Regions from separate parts of the Homo sapiens genome. Here region 1 is reported to be linked to region 2. Evidence: microRNA targets listed by miRTarBase, many of them from high-throughput screens and not tested one by one. Region 2 holds a microRNA gene; the other region holds the end of a gene's coding sequence.

The links. The annotated mature microRNA hsa-miR-6881-3p reads AUCCUCUUUCGUCCUUCCCACU and lies in region 2 at 2,921-2,942, opposite strand. An mRNA with a match to its seed (bases 2 to 7 or 8) in the 3' UTR can be bound and repressed. Matches are read on the target gene's strand: a 7mer-m8 pairs with bases 2 to 8, a 7mer-A1 pairs with bases 2 to 7 and ends in A, and an 8mer does both.
Region 1: the mRNA of SYTL4 is a reported target of hsa-miR-6881-3p. Seed matches in the 3' UTR shown: 7mer-A1 at 443-449 and 7mer-A1 at 1,688-1,694.

What each region holds. Positions count from the first base shown.
Region 1 is chrX:100,672,426-100,676,425 of GRCh38, reverse strand. It overlaps SYTL4 (synaptotagmin like 4), which reads left to right. Exons shown (of 20, transcript NM_001370165.1): 20 at 250-1,935. The coding sequence ends at 398. SRPX2 (sushi repeat containing protein X-linked 2) reads right to left here. Exons shown (of 11, transcript NM_014467.3): 11 at 638-4,000. Among named protein-coding and RNA genes, the nearest start is that of SRPX2, 30 kb to the right of the region's middle.
Region 2 is chr15:74,408,441-74,412,591 of GRCh38, forward strand. It overlaps MIR6881 (microRNA 6881), which reads right to left and starts at 2,992; the gene lies at 2,917-2,992. It overlaps SEMA7A (semaphorin 7A (JohnMiltonHagen blood group)), which reads right to left. Exons shown (of 14, transcript NM_003612.5): 11 at 3,445-3,572; 12 at 3,116-3,270; 13 at 2,855-2,916; 14 at 849-2,545. The coding sequence ends at 2,184. RefSeq lists enhancers at 800-1,300, 944-1,203, 3,209-3,709, 3,710-4,151.

The DNA of each region.
Region 1 (4,000 bases), not on the chromosome of region 2:
CTCTGTAACAGCCTCAGAATAAGAAGTCTCTAGTGACTGTGTGCCATTTGGAGTCTGATTTCATCAACCCAGAGTCTCTTGACAGAGTCTCAGGAATACAGGTGAGGGAGCACTTCCCAGACTGCTGTGGCCATTAGCCCATCTTCGTAGGAAACTGTTATGGGGTGGCTAATCTTGCTGTACAACCCATCTTCCCTGGTGGGCTGAGAGTGGGGCCCCTCTTTAGCCTCTTCTGGTGTTTCTCCTCAGGGATCAGTAATGGGGAAGTGGTGGACTGGATGGACTCGACTGGGGAAGAAGTGAGCCTGTGGCAGAAGATGCGACAGTACCCAGGGTCTTGGGCAGAAGGGACTCTGCAGCTCCGTTCCTCAATGGCCAAGCAGAAGCTGGGTTTATGAGTCCCTGTCCTCTTCTGCAGGTCCAGCCCTGGCGAGGGCAGGTCAGAGGAAGTGAAGAAATCAAGAGCAAAGATTTATAATTTAATGTGTATGTGTGTATGTGTGTATGTGTGTGTGTGTGTGTGTGTGTGTATGTGTACAAACATGTATTTTCTGCAAATCTCATTATGCTGGCTAGAGTGATGCAGACTTGTTCTTCTTTTTAAAGCAGTCTCAAGAATAAGCATTTCTTTAAAATGTTTCTGTGTATAATCTAGTTTATTTTCAGAGTCCATTTTTTCTTATGTCTTTATAAGGTTCACTTAACTTAAAAACAGCTTTTAAAACAACTTTTTATCTTCTGTCTTGCTATCATTGTTCCTACTTCCCTAGGAAGCCCTGGCTACCTTTCGCATTAGGACCAGTCTGGGTTTTAAGGCTCTGGGAAGCAGGGTTGGTTAGTAAAGACAGGAATGTTGGGGAGAGGTGAGTAGTTCCTTCCTCTTTCTCCTCTCCAATTTATGCTTTTAACTTATTTTCTACCTGGATAAACTTCTGGAACTTGGCTTTTAAATTTAACTTTTCTAGTTTTTAAGCAGTTTCCACCTTGCTTTGGTCTAATGCTTTTCTTTGAAATGCTAACAGAATTCCCAAGCTTTTTCCAGTTCTAGATATCTTTACTAGACCTTTGGGGGACTCTTATAATGGAGCTGCTTTTGAAAAGCACTTTAATTAGATAATGTATTTTGACTAAATCACGAGGATGCCCAGTGAGAGCTTCTAGCTGATCTCAGAGGACCAGAGTGACTGAGGGTAAAGTGTCTCACAGCCCATGCTGAATTTTCTGCATTTTAAACTGATACTGCAGTCATTGGAGAGAGAGCTCCTCATTTCTCGAATGAAAGATGAGATATATTCATCCTCATGTACCACATCTGTCTTAGTGTTTGCGTCTGGGGTGTGTTATCAAACAGAGCATGGTCTACATCCCACTGTGTCAACCAGAAGAGCCAAGTGTTATCTCAATTGGCCCAGTGTTTCTCCAGGCTGGGGACTGTTAAGGGCTCTAAGGGAATGTAGACAGAGTCTCCCTGTTATTCTGACTTCCTGCTTGATGAGCTTTCAGTTCCTGTTTTTGCTATTGTTTCCTAAATTTGACCTACATATTACATGGGTGTAGTGTGTTGAGGCTTTTCAAAGAAGGGTCTAGTGAGCTAAGTTTCATCTTCTGGTACTCATTGATCAAACTGACCTTTCTATTCTCATAAGCGTTTCTACCCAAAGTTGTGTGTGGAAGGAGTGTATAGCAGAGAGGAAATCCCTTTCAACAGAGTCAGCTGCTAACTGATTTCCTATAAGCACACTGGATTAAGGGCAGCCACAGTGGTTTCTACTGTATGTATGAACCGAATGGAGGAATGTTTTCAAAGATTGATTTGGTGTGGATTGCAATTGTAATGGAAGGCATAACTTGGGATCCCGGGCTGTAACTTGCTCTTTTGTTTCCCACCCCCCTGACATGTATGTGTGCTTTAATAAAGCTTTCTCACTTGTCAAACGTTTGTGTTTGTTAGTTCTATAAATGCTTTTGTCTCTGATGTCCTCACTGTTGCTTTTCCCCTGGCTTGAAGGATAAGAACCAAAGTGATAAATGCTCTTCCCTAACCATCCTATGCTGATTGAAGAAAATTCACCTTTCCCCGCATTGCTGCCTGATACCTTAAATGCCTGATACTTTCGCTGAGCTTGATCCCTCGTCCTTTGTATTTGGTATCTAAGGAGAACACTGAGAAATCATCTTTAAAGTGGCACCACTTTTCTATCTTGTAACAAAGGAACTCTTCCTTTAGCTTTGCAGACCCTCCTATACTGGAGGAAGGAGAGAGATGTTCATACAGGAGGTGAGGGGAGACATTCCCTGCTATAAGCACTTCTTTCTGGATCCTTCAATTTCTCTGGGAGGCGGGGACTTTTTCTTTTACTCCTCCTACCATTATGTAGTTTTGAGAGAGAAATAACACAGGTGCCAAGTAACCCAGCTCAGAAATAAGGCTCTTGATTTCTAGGTAGAACCCAAGCAATTCTTGACCTCTTGTGCAAAAGGGCATTAATATATATCAAATGCTTTTTATGTGCAAGGCTTCATATACTATTTCTTTAATTTCTCCAACCACTTTATGAAGTAGGAAATCTTCCCTTTTTACAGATGAGGAAACTCAAGCCTACTGTCACGTGACAGAGTTGGGCTTTGAATCAAAGTCTGACTCTACTGCACCATGTGGCCTCCTGTGAGAATGGTATGTGTGTTATGGGTGAAGGGTCAAAGGAAGACGTGACTCATCTCTTCTAAAATATCTTAAATAAGTTCAATTTACAAAAAGTAGGACAATCAGAATGCTTTGGATATTACCTAGCCAACTTAGTGACTGTACTGCTTGTGAGTGAGTGTGTGTGTATGTGAGAGAGAGAGAGACAGAGAAATAGGGGAGAGGAATAGGCAGGATAAGAGAGAATGGGGCAGTGGGGAGAAGTGGGGGAGAGGTGGGCAGAGAGAGAGGTACAATATATACAGGGGTCGGGCTAGCCCCTTTGGGTCTGGCTGTGGGTCATATTCTGCTGCTGTCTCTCCCCTACTTTAGGAGTTGGGATTTCTCAAATCCTCATCTTCAAAGGACTACAAAGGAGGTTACTGTAAAACTTTACCTAAAGAAAGCAAGACTGACTTGACTATTCAAAATGAAATGAAACAAAAGCTCCTCAGTTGCATATAAATGTTCCTTGAGTCAGGTCCAGGTGGAGCTCTGTTCAGGAGGTAGTAGGCCTCCGCTGTTTGGGCCTTTGACCTGCTAGTATGTCCTGGCTTGCCCCATTTGAAGTGTTAGTGATAAAGACAACGAAGGGCATTCATCTCGCCCAAGGTGCAGTCTTTGCCTTTGGAACCACAGAGCTAGTCTGACCAGAAATTTCCCACATGAACTCATTGTATCTGCCTCTGCCCATAACTTGCCTGCTGCCTCTCACAGTTCCCATATTTCCCTGGAGGGAAGAGGGAGAAGGGACCTTTTTGCTCCAACTTTGAACATTTCCTCCATGTTCCATTCTACCCAGCAACTCCCTAATTTTTTATATTGCATTTTAAAAATGAGATTTCCACTAAAATCCCAGTGGAAGGAGATTCTCTCTGACTCACTGCTCCCCCAATTTGTTCTGGGCTCATGATTTATGTCCCATCACTCCGCTTTCAAGACTGAATTTTCTCAGGTTGAGACCCTTTCATTTCCATTTCCCTCTTTCCTCCTGAGCCCACTCTGAGCCTTGTGTCTGGGTAGGATTATAGAACATGGAAAGTTTCTCCTTGCTTACAGCTTTCAGTTGTCTTTAAATGGAAAGTAGGAAAAGAAGTAGCGTCAGGATGGCATAATGTCTAAGAAGAACATTGCCTCTAGAGCCAGGCTGCTGGTGTTGAAATCCTGACTCTGCCACTTACTAGCTGTCTGATCTTAGGCAAATTACCTAATCTCACTCAGCTTCAATTTCCTCATCTGTAAAATGGGGTTAATAACAGTACCTACCTCATAGGGTTCTTGTGAAGGCTTCGGAGTCAATCAGTAGAGTGTTTAGAA
Region 2 (4,151 bases):
AACGCCTAGCAGACCCCAAAGGCCTAGGTCCTTGCCTCCAGGGACAGGGGACAGAGAAGGGAACAAGGGGGAGGGGAGGCCTCTGGGCTTCTATCTGGACTTCTATCTGCAGTGCTCCCTACTGTCCCTGCCCTTCATCCCAGGACCACTGCTCTCATCCTGACCTCCACCCGCCACCAGACAGCCTCCTAACTAACTCCCCTGCATCCTTCCACCCCAGCCTCAGAGGCTCCTTCCTGCATAAACTTCTGTGTTCTAAAACCTATTTACTTGATCTTGGAGGGAGTCCTGAGTTTCTACAACTCAAATCCTACCTCATCACTCATAAACCCTCCCCACAGGTCCCTCCCTACTCTCCAACCCTCACCCAGACCCCTACCCTGCCTGGAGCAAATCCCATTCCCACATCTCTTCAGCCGGCACCAGCCTCCTGCACACACACTCAAGGCCACAGCATCCCACAGGGTCGCATTTGATCAGCTTGCCCTCCAGAACTGCCCCTTGAAGGCAGGGAGTCCTGAGGCTGTTTCTAGCATGACCCAGGCCAGGCCTTCCAGGGGGAAGTGGTGGGAGGTGAAGGCTGGGAATGGGGAAAAGGGGTGCACGTGCTATTGGGGCTCTGGGGTCAAGGCTCGAGCAAGCAGCACGCTGCTGAGGAGTCGTGGGTTCAGGTCCCCATTCCTGCCTCTCACTAGCTACAGCCCTGCTGAGCTGGCTCCTGGGCCCTAACCAGGACATGAAAGAATGCATGTGATGCTCACGCAGCCAGGGGGTGGCGAGTAATAAACAGGAGCCCCCACCAACACCCCCTGACCAGGACAGCTTTGCAGGCAAGGAACAGGCGCAGGTAAATAAATAGCTTGTTTATTAGTAATATGTTACATTATTAAAGTGCATTGAGAAGAGGTGCAGGGGCCAAAGCTGGAAGGCCACTGGCCCCAGCCACTGCCCTGGGTGGCCAGACACAGCCGGAGAAGGGCCCAGCTCCCCCCTGAAATGGATGGACAGGGCTGGGGGCAGGGCCGCCTGCCTGGAGAGCTCGGCCCAGGCCATCCCCACCGGAATTTTCACAGTTTAGCCTAAGTTATAACATGTCCTGAGCGAAGGTGGGAGGCTAGGAGCATGGAAGCACAGCCCCTGGGGAAGGGGGCTGAGAGGAAGGGAGGAGGCCCCCCGCCCCCCAACCCTCAACGCCAAGGGCAGAGTCCTGGAACCTCCCCCTGAGGACCCGGCTCGTCCTTCCAAATGAACACGGTGAAACTAGGGCTCAGTTTTCTCCTTCATTCTCCCGTTTCCCTCACCCCACCCCCTCCCATAACCACCCCCAACACTAGGGGCTCCAACAACGTCCCCCTCAGACCGGGCTCCCAGGGCAGAGCCAGCTCATGCCACTCTCCAAGAACCCATGCCCGTCTCCAGACTCTTATCTCATCCCCGGGAGCCTCAGACTGGGATCACCCCCGCTCCCCAACCCATCCCTTCCCAGCCCCTCCCTTTCCCACCCACCCCCCCGCATGTAGTTTTGGTATTTTCATACAGATGCAGTCGGAAGTAGCTATACATGAAATAAGCCTAACATAAAAATAGAGCTTTTTCCGTCCTTCCGTCCGGAAAGCAAACATCCTTCAATAAACATGCAAGGCGGCTGTCCTGTGGGACCCAGGACCAGAGAGGGAGCTGCAGAGGACAGGGCTGGACAGAGGGTAGCCCTGGGTCTTCAGGAACACCAGCCACCCAGCCATGAGAGAGGGAGGGGAAGGAGGCAATGTGGGTACCAAGAGTCCAGAAGGACTCAGGCCTCAGCCCCAGGGTCGAGATGGAGTCCCAGCTCTCCTATCCAAACCCACTCCCCGACCCATGGGCTCTTGGGCTGGGAGCATCGCTGCATTTAGTCAAGTTTGAGGAGTCTGAAAAATATTTTCCAGAAGATAAAGTCTTGGGTCATCGATGCCCCAGCTTCACAGTCGGTGCCCTCATTCTCAGCCCCTCACCATCCGTGCGCCACCTGGGGCCCAGCAGCCGCCTGCGGCTGGACGTCTCCAGGCCTGGCATCCTCCACTGGGTTATTCTGTCCCCTGGAAGAAGTGGCAGGCAAGGAGCTCCCGGGCCAGCCGGCTCTGAGTGTGAGACGTTCTAGTGCCCTGGGCTGCAGAAGCCTGAGGCATGCCCAGCCTCGGGAGGCCCTAGTGGACCAGCAAGCCAAGAGTGAGTGTGGGCAGCACCCCCAGCCAGAGGGAGGCGGCCAGGGCACAGGCATGACCCAGCAGGTGCTCGGCCATGATGCCGTCCTCGGGCAGCAGCTGCCAGTGCTGAGCCTCGCGGAAGTAGGAGCCCTCCTGGGCCTCGCAGAAGTAGTGGCCGTACTGCTGCGCCGTGAGGTTCTCGATGAACAGGATGCAGTTGGGGCTCTGGTGACCAGGTTCGCAGCTCTGCTCCACGTTCTCCTTGTGGCGCCATGAGTAGGTGGCGTGGCGGGATTCCATGGGGCAGCTCAGGTAGTAGCGAGAGTTTGGGGCCAGGGAAACCTTCTGCAGTGGGGCCTTGTCTGGGGAGGCAGTGGGGAAGCAGCCGTGAGGAGGGACAAAGAGCTCCCAGGGGAGGATGTGTCCTCCCCACGGACTGGGATCCCAGGACAAGGCTTCTGAATGAACGTGGGGAACCCAGCCCTCAGCGTCCTCCTTTTTTCTCCCGTCTCGCTCATCCCACCAAGAGGGCTCCCTCTGCAGGACTGTATCCTGCCCCATGTACCTGGGGCCCACAGGACAAGGCCATGTCTCCCTCAGACCAGGACAATCAGGGCAGGGCAGTACCCCACTCATTGGGCCACAGCCGCCAGCAGGGCCAGATCAGGTACCTGGTTTGGGGTTGGGACACTCCTTGTGTGGCTCGGCTGGATTAATGGATTGCAGCACTGACCTGGAGTGGGAAGGACGAAAGAGGATCAGCAGATACAAGGCTGCAGACCTGACCCTCCTATCCTTACCCCAGTGCAGTTCCAGCAGAGAGGAGGGTCCCACAAGAAAGGCCCAGTACCGCCACCTCCTCCAGCCCGACAACACCTCCCCCTCTCCCATGCCCACCTTCTCCCAGGGACGAGGGATCCCGGCCAACGTACCGTTCGGAGCTGTAGATGGAGATGCAGCGGCCTTGGTCCCAGCCGCAGTAGGGGTCTCGGGACATGAGGCAACCGTGGCAGCCCCCGCCATAGACCTCACACAGGTCCAGGGGCACCTGGCTCACCTCCCACTGGGAGCTCACATACAGCTTCCTCTGGAAGGACAGCAGGATTGGGTCAGGCCCGGGCCCCACCCCACACTCAGTCCTAAATGTCCAGGCCCTAAGGCCTAGAAGCTCTTAAAAGAACACACAAATCACATGCAAAGGAGCCCTGTCCTCAGCTGCAGTCACTGCATAGCCCATGGGACGCAGTGGGGGAAGGCTCACCCGCTCAGCATCCAGCGACATGGTCTGGATGGCAGCCGCGCGGCGGAAGGGCTGGATCTCCATGATGTTGAAGGCGAAGCTGTGCTCCTGCTCCCCCGGTTCCACCACCTTGTGGATAGTGCCCCTGTCTGTGTATGGTGGACAGAGGGTCAGTGGGCGGGAGTCCCACTGAGGGGCCAGGCAGCTTTCCTCTAGGCCGGGGAGGGGTGGGAAGTCACAACTCAGGCAAGGGTCACAGGACTGGTGTGGGCAGGGCGAGGAGAGCGTGACTGGGGAAGAATGTGGGAGCCTAAGGGCAGCCTGGAACCTTCCAAGGCTGATCCAGAGAGGCCATCCCAGGAGGCCCAGGGGTCCCTGGATACGGCCTCCAACATTCCCAAGGCTGCACGGGAAGAACAGAAGCAGGAGCCCCACACCAGCAAGGTCAGTGCGGCTGCTGTCCATGCATCACCTCGTTTAACCCTCCACAGCCCTGCGAGGTGGCTGTCATCTTCCCCACTCCACAGATAAGGAAATCAGGCTCAGAAAGGCTAAGCCACTTGCTCAAGGTCACACAGCTGGTGAGCAGCAGAGACCGAGTTGGAACCCAAATCTGTCAGAGCCCAACCACTCAGCTGCTTCTACAACTCCCCTGCCTCCTGGACTCTTAGGGAATATATTTACTTTAAATACATTTTTTTTTTATTTTGGAGTAATTTTAGATTCCC